Linked DNA regions of Homo sapiens. The protein of the gene in region 1 interacts with the protein of each later gene in a biochemical or structural test. Each region holds a gene or a part of one and is shown on either strand. Other genes may lie near its edges.

Region 1 (4,691 bases):
CCAAAACTAAAAATAGGCAAGAAATGTTATTTTTTAACCCAAAGGAAGCGCAAGGTAACATTTTTGTCCAATTCTATAGTAATCGGCTGCTAGGACAGATAAAAGACTTGATACAAAGGCAGATAAAAGACTGATTCTTATCTTAATAATTAAAAACCTGTATTTCTACTAAGGAAGACAGAAATCTTACTGTATGAAAAAATTTCTAACAAATGCTGGAAAATGTACTATAAAAGAATTTTACATATACAGTACTTTAGCTTTTAAGGCCTAAAGGATTTGCCTTTTGTTATTTCCAAGACTCATTTTTAATAAATTAATTTTTTATTTTCTTTGGACTCATAGCAGTACATGTGATTCATGGGACTCTGGAAAAGCAGACAGATTCAACTAGGCAGAATCAGGCAAGGCAATAAGAAACATCTTAACACGGGACTGATACTCTACAGAGAAAACTTAGTTTCTTAAATCCTTATTTTATAAACACACTGGGCAAATACAGGAAACAAGGCCACAGAAAGTGAGGCTGGAGGCAAATGCTAAGATAACTAATAGAGAAAGATTTTTGCAAGATTTTGCACATTAACCATAGAGGAAGACAGTGTAAGTGGCTTTTTTTCCTAAAAGGAGATCATGGTTTAGCTGATCTATCCAATATGGCAGCCACTAGCAACACGTGGCCAATTAAATGTAAATTAATTAAAAGGAAAAATTCGTTTCCTAAGTTGCACTACAGTTCATGTACGTAATAGCCACATGTGGTTTGTGGCTACTGCTCTGAACGGTACAGACACAGATCACTGTAGAAAGTGCTAATGGAGAGTGCTGGCTTAAAGGAGGAAGAAAGGAAACAGAGAAAGGAGAGAGTATGACCTAGGTTAGTAAGTCCAGAAAGTAGACCCAACAATCCTACTATCTTTGGATAATCAGAATTTATTTTTTCATATGAAAGAAATTAAAATGAATATGCTAAAGTTTTATTTATTATTATTATTTGAGATGCAGTCTCACTCTGCCACCCATGCTGGCGTACAGAGGCACGATCTCAGCTCAGTGCAGCCTCGACCTCCCAGGCTCAAGGGATCCTCCTACCTTCCCCTTCTGAGTAGCTGGGACTACAGGTGCACACTACTGCACCTGGCTAATTTTTGTATTTTTTGAAGAGATGGGGTTTTGCCATGTTGTCCAGGCTGCTCTCAAACTCCTGGGCTCAAGCGATCTGCCCACCTCGACCTCCCAAAGTGCTGGGATTACAGGTGTGAGCCATAGCGCCCAGCCCCTAAAGTTTTATTTTTCTAAATTAAATGTGTGGGGCAATTATGCTAGAAGGTTCTAAGTGCTTTACATGTGTTACTTTATTTCATCTTCATTGAAATCATAGGAGGTAGGCGATATAATAATCCCATCTTACAGAGAGTAAGTGAGACTTAGAGAGAGTGTGTGAGTTGCCCCAGGCCACACAGCAAATTCCTGGATTCCAAGCATACTTTGTCTCTCAAAAGCCAGAGCTCTTAAGGCTGCCTGTACGAACTCCATTTGGGAATGAAGATAGAGGGAAGGTGCTCTAGATACTACCACCAGTCATGCATTAACACAAGTAGTGGGCCACAGCCTCAATAAACGGCTCCTTCTTAATTAGCATTCTTTCTCCTTTTGGCCTAATATTTTATGTTGGGCATGATTATTTTCTATTAGTAATGTAATAGTATTGCTTTCTAACCCCGTTCTTATCCCAGCCCTCCACCTATCCGCCTCTGAACCTTCCAAGTCTAGCCGTTCCTTTTCATCTATTTCTCCTGACAGTTTATGATAACGCCCTGAACCAGTTCAACATCTCTCAAGCTTCAATTGAGAATGGAGTATTTACCACAGAGAGTACCTGTGCTGTTCCAACATTCTTTCATACCTACAACTATTGGTCTGTTAAATATTTTTTAAATAATCAATGGCTTCATGTTATGGGAAGAAATTCTAACTGAATAGTTAAGTATTTAATGTGCTCAAGGCTGAGCTGTGATACAGAATTATTTCCTCTTAGATATAAGAGGTCCAGGGGAACCAGGCAGGTGCTCTTCCCCTTAGTTCAGAATAGCTCAGCTTTAATGTAGTCAATGTTCCATTAAAATGCTTAGCAAATTATTTTTTATCATCTATTACATATTTTAAAGCTCCTTTTCAATTCCTCGAACGAGTGACATCCCAACAACATTGTACAAATGAGTGACATCCCAGAACACTGTACAAAGACACACTTGACTGCATTTTCTGAGGACCTTGCAGGAGCACTGAGGACAGCCACCTGCTACAGAGGCAAAGGAGGAGTGAGCATTACTTGGGCCTCCCACGCCTTACCTTCGGGGCGAGCCGTCATCATGGGGCTGGATGATGACCACCTTCACAGTCACAGAAGTACGGAGCAGGTCGATCATCTGCTCGTGGGTCAGAGTGGCCACGGCTACTTTGCAGATCTCCACGAGGCGGCTCCCTTGGCGAAGGCCAGCCTTCCAGGCAAAGCCAAAAGGTTCCACATCTGCGACAATTCCTTCAAAATTCACATGGAAGCCAAGCTGGCCCAGCCCGTTCCTCCTCAGGGTCATTTCCACAGTCTCGCAGCCTCTCGTCACTATCTAAGGGGGAAGGAGACTGTTAGAGATGCCCTTCCTGCCCAAGCTGCCATGGGGCTCTGCCAAAGGTGCACGTATGGGCCTCCATGCCAGCCCTCTCCCTTGGGCCCTCGCAGCCCAGCCTGTCTCTCTCTGCCTTTTCCTCAAACTGTCCAAGTGACAGGACAAGGACACATTTAAGTTCAGAGCTGATCACAATTAACATTTGCATCAAGTGCAAAGAAAATAACAGAAGCAAAGCAATGGTTTCATTCTTCATTCTAAGTCATATCTGTTCTTGATACAGGTGTCCTGCTTTCTTAGATGTCACTGACCCAGAGCTTGAGAGCTTCAGATGGGCTCAGATAATTCCCGTTTTTCCTTTATTAGGTAAATTGACTTGACTTTTAAGCATATAAATCCCATCGTTCTAGATGGATTTTTGCAATGGAAAACCTGTAAAGACTTTGTGGACCATTACAAGTTTCAACCAGCAAGCACTAAAAACCATGAGACAATTTATTCATCCCAAGCAAAGAAAAACACCCCAAAGCACTTGAAAGCTAACGCTTAAGAGCCCACTCTGAGGTTCAGGAAGGGCAGTGGCAGAAAGTCAGAGCTTTAGGAAAACTCTAAATGTTCTCTACGCACCAGCCCTAGGGACATACTGTGGAGTGTTCTGTCCCCTAGGGTCCTTCTCTTGAGGACAGACAACTGCCTATGCTTGCCTGAGTGGTGAGGACCACTCAGATCCATGGTGGGGGCAGGCCAGCCAGACTCCTTGGCCATCTGTTCACAAGGCAAGTGTGTAGGATGGTGCTCTGGCAGGCAGCAGACAGACCCTCTGTGCTTATGGGCTGCCTCTCCTCCACTAGGCCTGTCTCCTAGGGGCTGAGGGCAGCCCCAAGCAATGGAAGCCTCAGTGTATGTACCTTACTCAAGAGTGAGAGAGAGTCAACAGCAGTTCCACAAAAAGGAACATGAAAGAAGAATGGTGGATTGCATCCCACTTGGTACATTAAAGCACCACTAATGCAGCCCTCAAAAGCACTCACCGAGCATAGTTTACATCCAATGAAAGAAAAACATGGGCTCATTAAGTATCACCCGATGACTATGACCTCACCTATCTGTGGGAATTTCAAGTTGGGAGGTATCATACTCCTATCCCCAAAAGCCCAGAGGCAATGTATGAAGTTTCAGTTTAATGAACACTCCATTTCTATGAAACATGCTCTGACTACATAGATACCTATTTAATAAGACCTATGACAGTAAGTACAGCTGTGGGACTGGGGCTGGTTCATGTATCACCACTGTGTCTGATGTTTCCATGGTTACCACAAGTGCACACAATGCCAATCAGCTTTTCCCAGACAGGCATGACAGTTCACGACTCAGCAAAATGCGGAAAGGGGACTGCTGGTTTTAGTTAGTGATGATGTTTTAGAATATTGACGTTTCTAAAGTCATGAACTGAAGTAACTAAAACTTGAAGAAGTAGTTCTGTAATAGGCACAACACAAATAAATTTTGGTCACTTCTTTTTCAACTTTGTTCTAAGCAATCCTATCAAAAGACGACACATAAGATGTACCCAGCCTTCTTTCAAATATCAATGCGATTATCAGGTGAAGTTTATCATCCATGTATCAGGCTGAAGAGTTATTGGCTGAGCCTTTCCAGAGTCCTCCAGCTCTGGCTCTTCTGCTCATTTCCTCCAATCACCTGCCACCTCCCCTACTTTGTCTTTTTGCTATTTCTTTATCCCCTCTGTTTATTGCTTCCTAACATCCCCAAAGTCTGAAGTAAGGTGTTCTCCATGTATTTGGACTTCTTCCATGGACCCAATTATCACACGAAAATTGTAGTCTCCAAGCCAGGACTGGCTATGTAATTTGTGGGGCCACAAGAAAAATCAAAATGCGAGGCTCCTTATGAAAAAATTAGTAAGTATTTCAAGATGGCAATGGCAGAGCATTCAACCAAGCACGAACTCTTCTGAGAGCGGGTCCCTGTGCAACTGCATGGGTTGCACATCCGTGAAGTGAGCCCTGCCTGGCCCTCTAGGAACAAACTCTCATTCTG
Region 2 (4,344 bases), on another chromosome or scaffold:
CTCCTGGCCCTCCAGGGGCCCCAGGTGGCCAGGCCTCACCTCACCTGACCCTGGGCCCTGTCCTTCTGCCGCCAGAGCAGGGCCTGGCCCCCCCCACTGTGTTCCTGAAGGCCCTGCCCATCCCACTGTACCACACGGTGCCTCCCGGGGGCCTCCAGCCCCGCGCCCCGCTAGTGACGGGCAGCCTAGATGGGGGCAACGTGCCCTTCATACTCAGCCCTGTGCTGCAGCCTGAAGGGCCTGGCCCCACCCAGGTGGGGAAGCCGGCGGCCCCTACGCTGACGGTGAACATCGTGGGCACTCTGCCTGTCCTGTCGCCGGGCCTGGGCCCCACGCTGGGCAGCCCAGGCAAGGTGCGGAATGCGGGCAAGTACCTGTGTCCGCACTGTGGTCGCGACTGCCTGAAGCCCAGTGTTCTAGAGAAGCACATCCGGTCCCACACGGGTGAGAGGCCCTTCCCGTGTGCCACCTGCGGCATCGCCTTTAAGACCCAGAGCAATCTCTACAAGCACAGGCGGACGCAGACGCACCTCAACAACTCCCGGCTGTCCTCAGAGTCCGAGGGCGCCGGGGGCGGCCTCCTGGAGGAAGGGGACAAGGCCGGAGAGCCCCCCAGACCAGAGGGCAGGGGCGAGAGCAGGTGCCAGGGGATGCACGAAGGCGCCTCGGAGAGACCCCTTTCTCCGGGTGCCCACGTGCCCCTACTTGCCAAGAACCTGGATGTGAGGACCGAAGCTGCTCCCTGTCCAGGGTCCGCATTTGCCGACAGAGAGGCTCCTTGGGACTCTGCCCCCATGGCGTCACCTGGGCTCCCAGCGGCCAGCACACAACCCTGGCGTAAGTTGCCAGAGCAGAAGTCGCCGACCGCCGGGAAGCCGTGCGCCCTGCAGCGGCAGCAGGCGACGGCAGCGGAGAAGCCCTGGGATGCCAAGGCCCCCGAGGGCCGGCTGCGGAAGTGTGAGAGCACCGACTCGGGGTACCTGTCGCGCTCCGACAGCGCGGAGCAGCCGCATGCGCCCTGCAGCCCCCTGCACAGCCTTTCGGAGCACAGCGCCGAGTCCGAGGGGGAGGGCGGCCCGGGCCCGGGGCCAGGGGTCGCAGGGGCCGAGCCCGGGGCGCGAGAAGCCGGCCTGGAGCTGGAGAAGAAGCGGCTGGAGGAGCGCATCGCCCAGCTCATCTCCCACAACCAGGCGGTGGTGGACGATGCCCAGCTGGACAACGTGCGGCCCCGGAAGACCGGGCTGTCCAAACAGGGCAGCATCGACCTGCCCACGCCCTACACCTACAAGGACTCCTTCCACTTTGACATCCGCGCGCTGGAGCCAGGCCGTAGGAGGGCCCCGGGCCCCGTGCGCTCCACCTGGACGCCCCCAGACAAGTCTCGGCCCCTCTTCTTCCACTCCGTCCCCACTCAGCTCTCCACCACCGTGGAATGTGTCCCCGTCACCAGGAGCAACTCGCTGCCCTTCGTCGAGGGCTCCAGGACGTGGCTGGAGCCCAGGGAGCCCCGGGACCCCTGGTCCAGGACGCAGAAGCCTCTGAGCCCCAGGCCCGGCCCAGCCCGCCTGGGCTGCCGCTCGGGACTAAGCTCGACTGACGTTCCCAGTGGGCATCCCCGGGCCCTGGTCAGACAGGCCGCGGTGGAGGACCTGCCAGGCACCCCCATTGGCGATGCCCTGGTGCCCGCAGAGGACACAGACGCAAAGAGAACTGCTGCGCGGGAGGCCATGGCCGGCAAGGGCAGAGCGGGCGGCAGGAAGTGCGGCCAGAGAAGGCTGAAGATGTTCTCCCAGGAGAAGTGGCAGGTGTACGGGGATGAGACGTTCAAAAGGATCTACCAGAAAATGAAAGCCAGTCCCCATGGAGGCAAGAAAGCCAGGGAGGTGGGAATGGGCAGTGGGGCAGAACTGGGCTTTCCTCTGCAGAAAGAGGCAGCAGGGAGCTCAGGCACAGTCCCCACCCAAGACAGGAGGACCCCTGTCCATGAGGACATATCCGCAGGGGCAACGCCAGAGCCTTGGGGAAATCCACCAGCCCTGGAGGCCTCCTTGGTGACTGAACCCACTAAGCATGGGGAGACGGTGGCCAGGAGAGGAGACAGTGACCGACCCAGGGTGGAAGAGGCTGTGTCATCCCCTGCACTGGGTGGCAGAGACAGTCCCTGTTCAGGCAGTAGGAGCCCCCTGGTCTCTCCAAATGGGAGGCTGGAACTGGGGTGGCAGATGCCCCCAGCACCTGGCCCCCTCAAAGGGGGTGATGTAGAGGCTCCCAGGCCAGTTTGGCCGGACCCCAAGCTGGAAGGAGGTGCCCGAGGTGTGGGGGATGTTCAGGAGACCTGCCTGTGGGCCCAGACTGTCCTGAGATGGCCCAGCAGGGGCTCAGGGGAGGACAAGCTCCCCTCAGAGAGGAAGAAGCTGAAAGTGGAGGACCTGCACAGCTGGAAGCAACCAGAGCCTGTGAGCGCAGAGACCCCAGGTGGGCCCACGCAGCCTGCCTCTTTGTCATCCCAGAAGCAGGATGCCGATCCCGGGGAGGTGCCAGGGGGCTCAAAGGAGAGTGCCAGGCAGGTGGGCGAGCCTCTGGAGTCCTCTGGAGCCTCCTTGGCTGCTGCTTCTGTTGCCCTGAAGAGGGTGGGGCCAAGGGACAAGGCTACCCCACTGCATCCTGCAGCCCCAGCCCCCGCAGAGCACCCCTCGCTGGCCACCCCACCTCAGGCTCCTAGAGTGCTCTCTGCCCTGGCAGATAATGCCTTTTCCCCCAAGTACCTCCTCAGGTTACCTCAGGCAGAGACCCCCTTACCACTGCCCATTCCCTGGGGACCAAGGCACAGCCAGGACTCTCTCTGCAGCAGTGGGTGGCCTGAAGAACGGGCATCATTTGTTGGGTCAGGACTGGGGACCCCTCTTTCTCCCAGCCCAGCCTCAGGCCCCTCCCCAGGTGAGGCGGACAGCATCCTGGAGGACCCCAGCTGTTCCAGGCCACAGGATGGGAGAAAAGGGGCACAGTTGGGGGGGGACAAGGGGGACAGGATGGCCACTAGCAGGCCAGCAGCCAGGGAGTTGCCCATCTCAGCACCAGGGGCTCCCAGGGAGGCTACCTCCTCCCCGCCCACTCCAACGTGTGAGGCACACTTAGTTCAGGACATGGAGGGTGACAGCCACCGTATCCATCGCCTCTGCATGGGCAGCACTTTGGCAAGGGCCAGGCTCTCTGGGGATGTCCTGAATCCCTGGGTACCCAACTGGGAGCTGGGGGAGCCTCCTGGGAATGCCCCAGAAGATCCTTCTTCAGGGCCCCTGGTGGGCCCCGACCCGTGTTCCCCCCTCCAGCCTGGCTCCTTCCTCACTGCCCTCACTCGGCCTCAGGGTGTGCCCCCAGGCTGGCCAGAGCTGGCCTTGTCTTCCCACTCAGGGACGTCCCGGAGCCACAGCACCCGCAGTCCCCACAGCACCCAAAACCCCTTTCCCTCACTGAAGGCTGAGCCGCGGCTCACGTGGTGTTGCCTGAGCCGCAGTGTCCCTCTGCCCGCGGAGCAGAAGGCAAAGGCGGCATCTGTGTACTTGGCGGTGCACTTTCCTGGTAGCAGCCTCCGAGATGAGGGTCCCAATGGCCCTCCTGGGAGCAATGGAGGATGGACCTGGACAAGCCCTGGAGAAGGAGGGCCGGCGCAGATGTCCAAGGTAAAGCTGGGCTTTGCCCCAGGGCCCGGGGTTGAGAGAGCATGTTGTTATCCCGTAAGACCTCTCATGAGGGAAGGAAGTCTGAAGCCGTCCCATGTAGCATCTGCTGTTCACTGCTTGCTTGTTCCTGAGGGAGGCTGGGGATACCACATAGACAGCAGGAAGGAATAAAGGCCCAAATGCAAACCAAAACAGAGTTGCGGAAAACATAAATTCCAAAGGAAAGAATTACTGTACTCAAGACATGAGGTGAGATAGTCTTCATAACCAAATGTAAAATTTAACTGAGCTTCCTGGTAACAGAAGCAAAAAGTAAAATGAAACACTCCATCAGAGAGGTGAGCTCTCTGGATCATTCTAAGATTATAAGCCAGAGACTCCCAATAATTGAGAGAGTCTTTATACTGGGGATTCTGGAGAAGGAATTACTGTTGATTGGACTCAGCCCTCTCTCTGAGGTTCCTGGGGGCAGAGAGAAAAGGGGGAAATGTGGTGGATGCTCACAGGTGTTCTCACTTGGTGAAGAAATGATAATGCAGAGCTCCACCTTGAGAGGGGGTTCACGCACCTGGTTGTGATGACTGAGGGCTTAGTCCTGCTCTGGAGTGGCTTGGGCCGCGGCCACTGAGGACGGTCCTGGAGGCTCAGCAGTCATTTAACCTTT
Region 3 (5,014 bases), on another chromosome or scaffold:
TAGCTGTGAGGCCAGCTTCCCAAAAAGCATGGGCAGGAGATGCTGGAATGAACCACCAAGTGAGATTCTGCCTCTGCCAAGGGAGTGAACCAGACCCCCGCCTCTTCTGGACAGCCGCCTTCCTCTGGGCAGGGAGAATGGACCCATCAACCTGGAGAGGACCATGCAGGCTGGATAGCTCTAAGCAATAGGTGGACAGAGAGCCACCTTCACCTCACCTGGAAAGGGAAGAGTAGTAAAATGAAGGCAGGGCCAGGAGTGGGACTAGAGGGGTGGGAGCAGTGGCTCTCCTGTCCCCAACAAGGGGAAGGAACATCCTGGGCAGATCAGTGTGTTTGTACCCTATCCCCCAAAATCAGACATCGAGGCTTTGCCCCAAACTAACTTCCTACCCACAAATATTCCCCATAGATTTTGAGTGGGAAAGATCTGAATTCTAGGACTAGCTCTGTGAGTGCTAGCAGGTGACCTTGAGTAAGCCATTCACTCTCCCTCTGCCTTGGTTCCCTGTGAGTAATTGGGGAGAACAGTTACTGTATGTCAAAGACTCTAATGACACATAGTAGGATTCCACAGTGACTGTGTATGCACAAGATTGATCATGCATGGCTTTTATTATATTCTTCATAATGGTTGTTTTTCATGTTCTTTTCTCCCCATTAGACTTTGTGCTCCTTGCAGGAAGGAAACTGTGTTTCATTTCTGTACTGGGCACACAATAGGTACCCAACACCTGTTTACTGAATGGAGACATCCAGAAATGAATGAATGAATAAATGTCAGGGTCCTTCCTGCTGTGCCAGGGGATACAGGGAAAAGCAGTGTGGGGTGGATGGCCTGAAAGGATAGGCTGCCTGCAGTGGCTCAGCCTGGCTTGCTTCCTACACCTACAAGTCAGAGCCTTAGAAATTGTCCAGTCAACTTCCTCACTGCACAGATGAAGAAATTAAGGCTCAGAGACAGGAAGGCACTTGCCCAAGGTCACATAACTCCTTAATGACAGATACAGAATTCAGAATTAGAACTCAGGTTTCCTGCCCTCCAGCCTAGGGTATTGCACACACTTCACTGCTTCTCTGGAGCTGTTCTTTTAGGGAAGAAAGATGGTTCAGTGAAGGCCGGTTCCAATGCCCTCCCCTCTGCCCTCTGTTAGTCCTTTCCCACATCTAGCTTCAATCTCTTCCCTTTCCCCCTATTCCATTCCTCTGGAAGTCTAGCTTCTGCCTTAACCCTTCACCACGAAACTGGGAGTAAGGATCTTCCCTAGGGTTCCAAGAATCAATTTCCTCTCCCCACTCCTCTGCCCTGGGAACTTGGGGGAACCAGAGATGTGTGTGTGTGTGGGGGGGTGCTGTTGGTTGAACCTCGGGCACCGAGTCCACGGAGAACAGATGGAGAGGGGTTGCGGCACAGATTCTCCCAGGATAGGAGCGCGGGAGGGAGGTGCAGTGAGCAGGGCTGGGAGCGGGGAAGAGGTGTGGGGAGTCCCTGTTGCTTTACCCCTTCGGGGGGTGGTTATTAGGTAGGCTTGGGAAGGCGGAGTTTGGGGGGCTGGGGGCGGGGCTCGGCTGCGCTGGCAGGAAAGGGGGGGCGCGCTGGCTCCAGCTCGGCTCAGACAAAAGGCGGCGGCGGGAGCGGGCGGGAGGCGGAGCGGCGCCGCGAGGGCCTCAAGGTGACACCCGCCCCCGGCCCCGGCCCCCCCCGGCCCGGCCCCCCAGCCTGCCTCCCACCCTCAGCCCCCAGCCCCTTACTCCCGGTGCCCTTTCCGGGCCCCCTCCCCCGGCGGGGGGTGGGGAGCAGCGAGGGCCCCGCCCCCTCCCGTCCTCTCCCCAGGGCCCGCGCAGGATGCCCCCGGCCCCTGGCAGCCCCCCGGGAGGTCCTGAGCTCGACGCGCCCCCTCTACGCCATGTCCCCCCCTGGCTCGGCCGCGGGAGAGAGCGCCGCCGGCGGCGGCGGCGGCGGTGGCGGCCCCGGGGTCTCGGAGGAGCTCACGGCGGCGGCGGCAGCGGCGGCGGCGGACGAGGGCCCCGCCCGAGAGGAGGTGAGAGTCTAGGGCGCCCCTTCCCCGGGCGCGGCCGCAGCCTGGCCCCCCATCCCCCATCGCACGCGTCCCCCGCTGGTTCCGCCGCAGCGCGGCCGGCGCCCCGCACCCCGAGCCGGCCGCTGCAGCCGCAGTCCGCGCCGCCGCCCCCACCCGGCGGCCGGAGCTGTCCGCGGTGCCGGGGAAGGGGCCGCGCCGGGGGCGGGGCTCAGGGGTCCCGGGCAGGGGGAGGGGCCTAGGGGCGGAGCCTCGCGGATCCTGGGCTTATGAGAGTGGGGGCTATGCTCTACCGGGGTGGGGACGGTGGCGGGGATCCTGTCTCACAGAGGAGGATGCTACCTTGAAGGCCAGGAAGGGCGGCTTGTACGGGCTACAGAACGAGGAGGGTACCATGGGGAAGTGGTGGTGGTACCTGATCTGGGACCCTAAGGAGGTCAGATGTGTACGGGGGGTCCCGCCTGTGGTCATTGGGAGTGTGTGTGTGTGTGTGTGGGGGGGGGTGTGCACCTCTCTCTCACGAGGCTCCTGCTGCTTCCTCATATCCCTAGTTGGGGTCCCTAGTACTCAGTCCTCTGAACCTGAAGACAAAGAGACGGAGGAAAGTACCAGGAGCACCCCCACTCCAGCCTCCCATGCACACTTGTGCACACGCATGCACCCTGTACTAGGGCAGAGGCACACAAGCGGGGATGGGCCTGCAGGTAAAGCCCCTTTCAGAGGTACCCACATGGGGACAAGCACATAACCAGGTAGGCACACGAAGGGGCCCGTATGTTCATACCTCCTAAGGACAAGGCTCCCCGAAAGGCACATGTACCCTAATCTCCTTGTCCACATGTACTGTGTGCTATTTCCTAGCTCGCCTAACTATCCATACTTCTAGATCCAGGGACCGATGCCTATTACTGTACCCTTCTTTTCCACTCTTTTCCTCTCTTTCCTGGCTGGCCTCTAGGTCAGGCCTGAGGAATTGAGGGGGTAAGTCAGGATCCCAGCAGGAGGTTGTGTGTGTGTGTGTGTGTGTGTGTGTGGTGGGGGATGGGTTCCTAAAGCTAGACAGCACAGAGGAGGGGTGGGAAAACAGAGGCCACTACAAGAAATTAAACTCAACACTCAATTAGGATGTGGCTGCTGGGGGCCAGCACCATGGTAGGCACCTAGGATGCAAAGAGAATGAAGCATGGGCCCTCAGGAGTACCCAGTGTAGTGGGGAGCCAGACATGTAAACAACTCCTGGGCCAACCCTGGGACAGAATGTGCCAGGAGCTTTAACAGACAGGCTCCAGGAGAGTACCAAAAATAATTTTCTCTTGATAAATTGCTGGGCTTCAAACGTTGTCCTCGCTACCCCAGTCCCACATCCCCTATGCCTGTCCTCTCCTCAGCCACATGCCTCTGCCCTTCTGGATACCTCCTCCTGGACTGCCTGCCGCTCAGGGACCCCAGCCCCCTCCCTCCCATCCTAGGACAAAGGGAAGGATGTCAGGGTGCAGGAGGGAGACTCACAGGGGAACCAGGGTCCAGAACATGGGGAATGAGACTGGGCCTGGGGTTCTCTGGAGGCCCTTATCCAAAGGACGTGTTAGGCTAATTGTGAGGGTTAGGGAGGTGGATGGGTCAGAGGGGAGTAGCTCCTCTAGAACCTAGGACTGAAAAAAATCTGGAAGTGAGGGCCCCACTTGTTAAGTGGGGAAGTGATGTCAGTGGGTCCCTCCCCCTTTTCTAGAGGACCTGGAAGGGGTCTGGGCTGGGGACCTTCCTTCGCTGATGCCTGTCTGTCTGTCCTCCCCTGTCTTCCCTGTCCACATCTTCTGTTTCATTGCCATTTTTGTGTTTGTCTTCGGATGCTCTCTGGGTACCATCCTATCCATCTGTGTTTGCTGCCTGGGCCTCTATCTCTGGCTCTGATCCTTCTCTGCCTCTTGGGGTGTCTCTCTCTGCACTCTCCTGTACTGGCATTCCGGTCCCCTTTCCTGTCCTCTGGCTTGCTCTGTGTCACTTCTGTTTCTACCTCTGGCCCCTGGCTCCCATCTTGGTCTCACCTTTTCTCTCCATATCCCTGTTTCTCTCTGCCTGTTATCTCTGGTGCTGGCCTCTGCCCCTCCATCCCCGTATCCATCTCTGTGCTGGGTCCTGCCTGCTCTCACTTCCCACTCATCTTGGCCCCTCTCCCTGCCCACCTGAGCAGCAGCGTCCCATCCAGCCCTCTTTCACCAAGTCCCTCTGCCGTGAGTCCCACTGGAAGTGCCTCCTGCTCTCGCTGCTCATGTACGGCTGCCTGGGGGCAGTGGCCTGGTGCCACGTCACCACAGTGACGCGCCTCACCTTCAGCAGCGCCTACCAGGGCAACAGCCTCATGTACCATGACAGCCCCTGCTCCAACGGCTATGTCTACATCCCCCTGGCCTTCCTGCTCATGTTGTACGCCGTCTACCTGGTGGAGTGTTGGCACTGCCAAGCCCGCCATGAGCTGCAGCACCGTGTTGATGTGAGCAGTGTGCGGGAACGTGTGGGCCGCATGCAGCAAGCCACGCCCTGCATCTGGTGGAAGGCCATCAGCTACCACTATGTCCGCCGCACCCGCCAGGTCACCAGATACCGCAATGGAGACGCCTATACCACCACCCAGGTGAGGAGCTGGTGGGGAGTGCAGGACATTCAACATGGGAGGTGGCACTTACGTGCTGCCTCACTCCCTCCCCACCTCCCTGGGGGGAAGGTGGGAGGAGCAAAAGGCAGCAGTGAGCTCCCATGAGCATTGCAACAGCAGGGCAATAGCAACAACCATAATCATAACAGCAAAAACCGACCAGGAGCCAGGCTCTGCTCTAAGTATTTTACACACATCAAATCATTTATTTAACCCTCATAACAACCCTATGATGTAGGCAGGTATTCCCATTTTGCAGATGAGGAAACTGAGGCCTGGAGAGTTTAAGTAATGTGTCTAAGGTCAAATAGGCAGTATGTGGT
Region 4 (4,344 bases), on another chromosome or scaffold:
GATGAGCGGAAACGGCTCTACATCTTTGTGCCAGGTAAGGGCTCCCAGCCTGTGTGCCCACTCCTTACCCCTCTTGTCAACTGGAGGCATCAGGGGAAGTCCAGAGAGTGCTTTAGTTTATTGTGAAATGCAGCCATCCTAGAAAAGCAGACAATCATGGAACCAGCCTGGCTCAGTCGGGGAGTGTGTTCGCACCCACTCCTTGGTCTGGGTGATCTGCCTGCTCCCTGCCAGTCACCCTATTCCTGCCTCCCAAGAACTCTATATTCTCAGCTGCTTCCAATCTGCTCCCTCTTGACCCCACATCCCTTCTTCCCCATTCTCCAAGCTCCAGATATCAGCTGCATTTCAACTTGTGACTTGCCTTCTTTCTTACCCTGGCACTGTCAATATCAAACATTAGAGCTGGAAGGGACCAGCTCTAACATTTGATTTATGCTCTTCTGGGAGCATCCCTATTCTGTAACGGGGAGACAGAGGGCCAGAGATGGCAAATGACTTGCCACACAGCAATTCAGGGGATGGCCAGAAACCCAGTTCCCCTGATTTATTCACGGCTCCACTCCTGGCAGATCCCACCGTGGGCTTCCTCCCTAATGATGCCGAGGAACTATTCATCTTTCTCACGGAAATAACTGAGATCACCATTCCATGCCGAGTAACAGACCCACAGCTGGTGGTGACACTGCACGAGAAGAAAGGGGACGTTGCACTGCCTGTCCCCTATGATCACCAACGTGGCTTTTCTGGTATCTTTGAGGACAGAAGCTACATCTGCAAAACCACCATTGGGGACAGGGAGGTGGATTCTGATGCCTACTATGTCTACAGACTCCAGGGTGAGCCCCCTTTCTGGCCTGATGCTCAGCAGAGGCAAGTATAACCCTCCACAGAGGAATAGCCCTTTACAGTTTACAAAGTGTGGGACTCCACTTCCCAGTGGATTCTCACCACAGCCTTCGAAGGAAGATAGTGTTTTCCCCATGTTACAGAAGAGGGAAACTCAGGCGCAGAGAGAGGATGGAGCTTGTCCCCTGTCGCAGAATTCGATAGTGGCAGAGCTGGCCTGTGCAACATGGTCGGTGAGGGCACAAGCTTCAGAGCCAGCTGGGTCGAAATCCCAGCTTTGCTATTTCCTGTCTGAGTGACTTTACACAAAGCACATAATCTCTCTGAGCCTGCTTCCCCTCTTGTAACGTGGGGATAACAATGGCTGCCTACCTCATAGGATCAATTGTGAAGATTAAATAAAAGATGGAGAGTACCTGGCACATGTTATGTGCTCAATACATTTCTCCTGTACATAGATCTCCAGAGGGTACTTTGATTTCCAGACTGTTATCCCTTCTAGAACGTCAGCTCCATAAGAACAGAGATTTTGTCCACTTTGTTCACTACTGTTGCTCCAGTGTCCAGAATAGTACTTGGCATGTAGTAGGTATTCAGTAAATATTTGTTGAATGAATGAATCTTCTACATCAGTCATCCTTTCCCTCTCTAGCCCCCTACCCTATCCCCAAGCTGAAGTGCTAGTGGCTGGTGGTGACTTCCCCAGACCTAAGCCAATCTCTCTCTACCAGTGTCATCCATCAACGTCTCTGTGAACGCAGTGCAGACTGTGGTCCGCCAGGGTGAGAACATCACCCTCATGTGCATTGTGATCGGGAATGAGGTGGTCAACTTCGAGTGGACATACCCCCGCAAAGAAGTAATGTGGGGCCAGGCAGGGGTCGGAGGAGGGGCCAGGAACGGGTGGATATCTGGCTTGCAGGCTGATTTCTCCCCGGCCCCTCCTGATTTGGGGGGCCTGCCCAACCTGTTGCTGCAGAGTGGGCGGCTGGTGGAGCCGGTGACTGACTTCCTCTTGGATATGCCTTACCACATCCGCTCCATCCTGCACATCCCCAGTGCCGAGTTAGAAGACTCGGGGACCTACACCTGCAATGTGACGGAGAGTGTGAATGACCATCAGGATGAAAAGGCCATCAACATCACCGTGGTTGGTGTGTGCCTTGGGCTCAGCCCAATCCCCAATTCCTTCAACGCTCCCCACCCTCACCCACTTTGCTGGGTGCAGAGTGATGGTGAGAGTTGCATTTTTGATACAGTGATCAGGGCTGAGCTGGACCCAGTGCCTGTCACAGCCCCGGGGTATAGTCAGCCACACTCCAGTGCAGCCCTAGCTAGCCTCTGTGCCAACCAAAACCCCAATTCCAGGATAAACCCCAAACCAAAATGTAGTGTCAGCCCCAAATCCAACCCTATCTCAACCTAGACTTTCTGACTAGCCAGAGCCCCAGCCCCAACCTGACTTCCAAGCCCAACTGCCATCCCAGGTCCGGGAAGCCCCATCCCCAAATTCAACCTTATCACTAGTCCCAGCATCAGCCACAGTACTGACCCAGAACAGAGAACTGTTAGTACAACTCTGTTCCCAACCTGGGAGCTGGCCCCAGCATCCATATTAGCCCCAAATTCGGCCCCTTCTCCAGGCCCTGTCCCCAGCCCAATTTCAACCTCAGCTCCGGAAACTCCATGGCTGGCACGGTCCCCAGGCCTGAAGCCCCACCCCACAGGCTGGCCTCCTTTGGGATTCAGTTGGTGCCCTGCCCCCAGGGCCCCGCCCCTGACGGTCACCCCTTGCAGAGAGCGGCTACGTGCGGCTCCTGGGAGAGGTGGGCACACTACAATTTGCTGAGCTGCATCGGAGCCGGACACTGCAGGTAGTGTTCGAGGCCTACCCACCGCCCACTGTCCTGTGGTTCAAAGACAACCGCACCCTGGGCGACTCCAGCGCTGGCGAAATCGCCCTGTCCACGCGCAACGTGTCGGAGACCCGGTGAGCAGCTCGCTCTCCCATCCCATTCTTGAAGTTATTTTTCTTTGCAGCCGCCAGGCAGCCCTCGGCTTTCAGCCACAAACCTAGGCCCAGCTTTCTGAGAGCATATTAGGTGCCAGGTGCTGGGGATGCTGCAGCGACCAGAGCTGACAGTTCATCCCTCCTAGAGTTTCTAGTCTAGTGGAGGAAACAGTCGCCGGTCAGATGATCACCCAGATGTTTAGTTGTCCTTGTGATGGGTGGGGCCAGCAGTAGCAGCCAAGAAGTAAACGGGCAGATGACTGGGGAAGAGGGTGCCAGGCAGGCCACTCATGGCCTGTGGTATCCCTGAGGCTGGAGATTTGCTGGCTGACAGAGACTGTGGTAGGTTAGGATGGAGCAGTGTCCACCTTTCTGAAGGGGAGAGAAATAGGACTTTCCTTCAATGCTCCCCACCCCCACCCACAGTTCATCTCAACCCTCCCTCTTGGCCTAGGGGAACTGCCTGTGGGTGAGGATTTACGAGACCTGGTTTGAGTCCCGGCTCTGCTACCAATGCCGAGATGACCTTGGCAAGCCCTTCCCCTCCCTGGGCCTTGTTCCTCTTTATACCAGGAGGGTGGGGAGAACTGTAAGAGTCCTTCCGACTCTGACAGCTGCCTTTCCTGCTCCCCAGGTATGTGTCAGAGCTGACACTGGTTCGCGTGAAGGTGGCAGAGGCTGGCCACTACACCATGCGGGCCTTCCATGAGGATGCTGAGGTCCAGCTCTCCTTCCAGCTACAGATCAATGGTGATGAGCACGCCCCTCGCCATGTCCCTGCTCCTTCCCCTCCCTGCCCCCGTTCCCTCTCCCTTCCTGCACTGTCCACCCACCCATGGGAGGAGTGGGAGAGGGAGCCTGGAACTCAGGAGATGGATTCTAGGCCACTGACCCACTGCCGTGTGAACCTGGCCTCTGGGCCTCAGTTTCCCCAGCTGTATAAGGAGGCCATCTGGCTAGATTGGTGTTTCCAAAACTTCAGGCACTTAGGTACCAAGGCCATGATTTTCCCTTCTCACATTCCACTTATACTGTACTATTAACTCGATAGGTATTTATTGAGCAACTACCATATGCCTGTCTCTTCAAGGTTCTTGAACTTCCCTCCCTGCCTTTGTGCAGCTTGCATCCAAGTAGGGGAAGACAAACACTAACAGTAGGGAGGAAAACCCCAGCAAATTACATAGGTTAGAAGGTAACTAACACTGCGGGAGAGGAAAAACAGGGGCCGGGTAGGGAAGGTTGAGAGTGCTGGGCACAGAGTGATGGTGTGAGTTGCATTTTTGATACAGTGATCAGGGCTGAGGAAGTGACATTTGCATGAAGACCTGAAGAAGGTGAGGACATTAGCTTAGTGGATATTTGGGGAAAGGGTACCTCGGGCAGTGCAAAGGCCAGAGCAATCACTGAAAGGCTTGTGTGGTTGGAACAGGGCTGTTGGGGAGAGTGGTGGGAGATGAAGTCAGAACGGGGATAGGGCAGTG

What was found. The genes of interacting proteins can lie anywhere in the genome.
Region 2: the proteins of SIPA1L2 (region 1) and ZNF831 interact in a test that uses a peptide from one of them, tested with the Homo sapiens proteins (one large-scale study listed by IntAct).
Region 3: the proteins of SIPA1L2 (region 1) and TMEM151B interact in a test that uses a peptide from one of them, tested with the Homo sapiens proteins (one large-scale study listed by IntAct).
Region 4: the proteins of SIPA1L2 (region 1) and PDGFRB interact in a test that uses a peptide from one of them, tested with the Homo sapiens proteins (one large-scale study listed by IntAct).

Annotation. Positions count from the first base shown.
Region 1 is NC_000001.11:232,458,535-232,463,225, forward strand, and holds part of SIPA1L2 (signal-induced proliferation-associated 1-like protein 2), read right to left. Parts: intron 2,628-4,691; coding exon 2,353-2,627; intron 1-2,352.
Region 2 is NC_000020.11:59,191,078-59,195,421, forward strand, and holds part of ZNF831 (zinc finger protein 831), read left to right. Parts: coding exon 1-3,680; intron 3,681-4,344.
Region 3 is NC_000006.12:44,268,837-44,273,850, forward strand, and holds the start of TMEM151B (transmembrane protein 151B), read left to right. Parts: upstream 1-1,613; 5' UTR 1,614-1,906; coding exon 1,907-2,041; intron 2,042-4,229; coding exon 4,230-4,670; intron 4,671-5,014.
Region 4 is NC_000005.10:150,131,245-150,135,588, reverse strand, and holds part of PDGFRB (platelet-derived growth factor receptor beta isoform 1 precursor), read left to right. Parts: coding exon 1-34; intron 35-572; coding exon 573-839; coding exon of another isoform or gene 840-873; intron 874-1,580; coding exon 1,581-1,708; intron 1,709-1,828; coding exon 1,829-2,003; intron 2,004-2,646; coding exon 2,647-2,839; intron 2,840-3,494; coding exon 3,495-3,610; intron 3,611-4,344. UniProt on the Homo sapiens protein: Tyrosine-protein kinase that acts as a cell-surface receptor for homodimeric PDGFB and PDGFD and for heterodimers formed by PDGFA and PDGFB, and plays an essential role in the regulation of embryonic development, cell proliferation, survival, differentiation, chemotaxis and migration.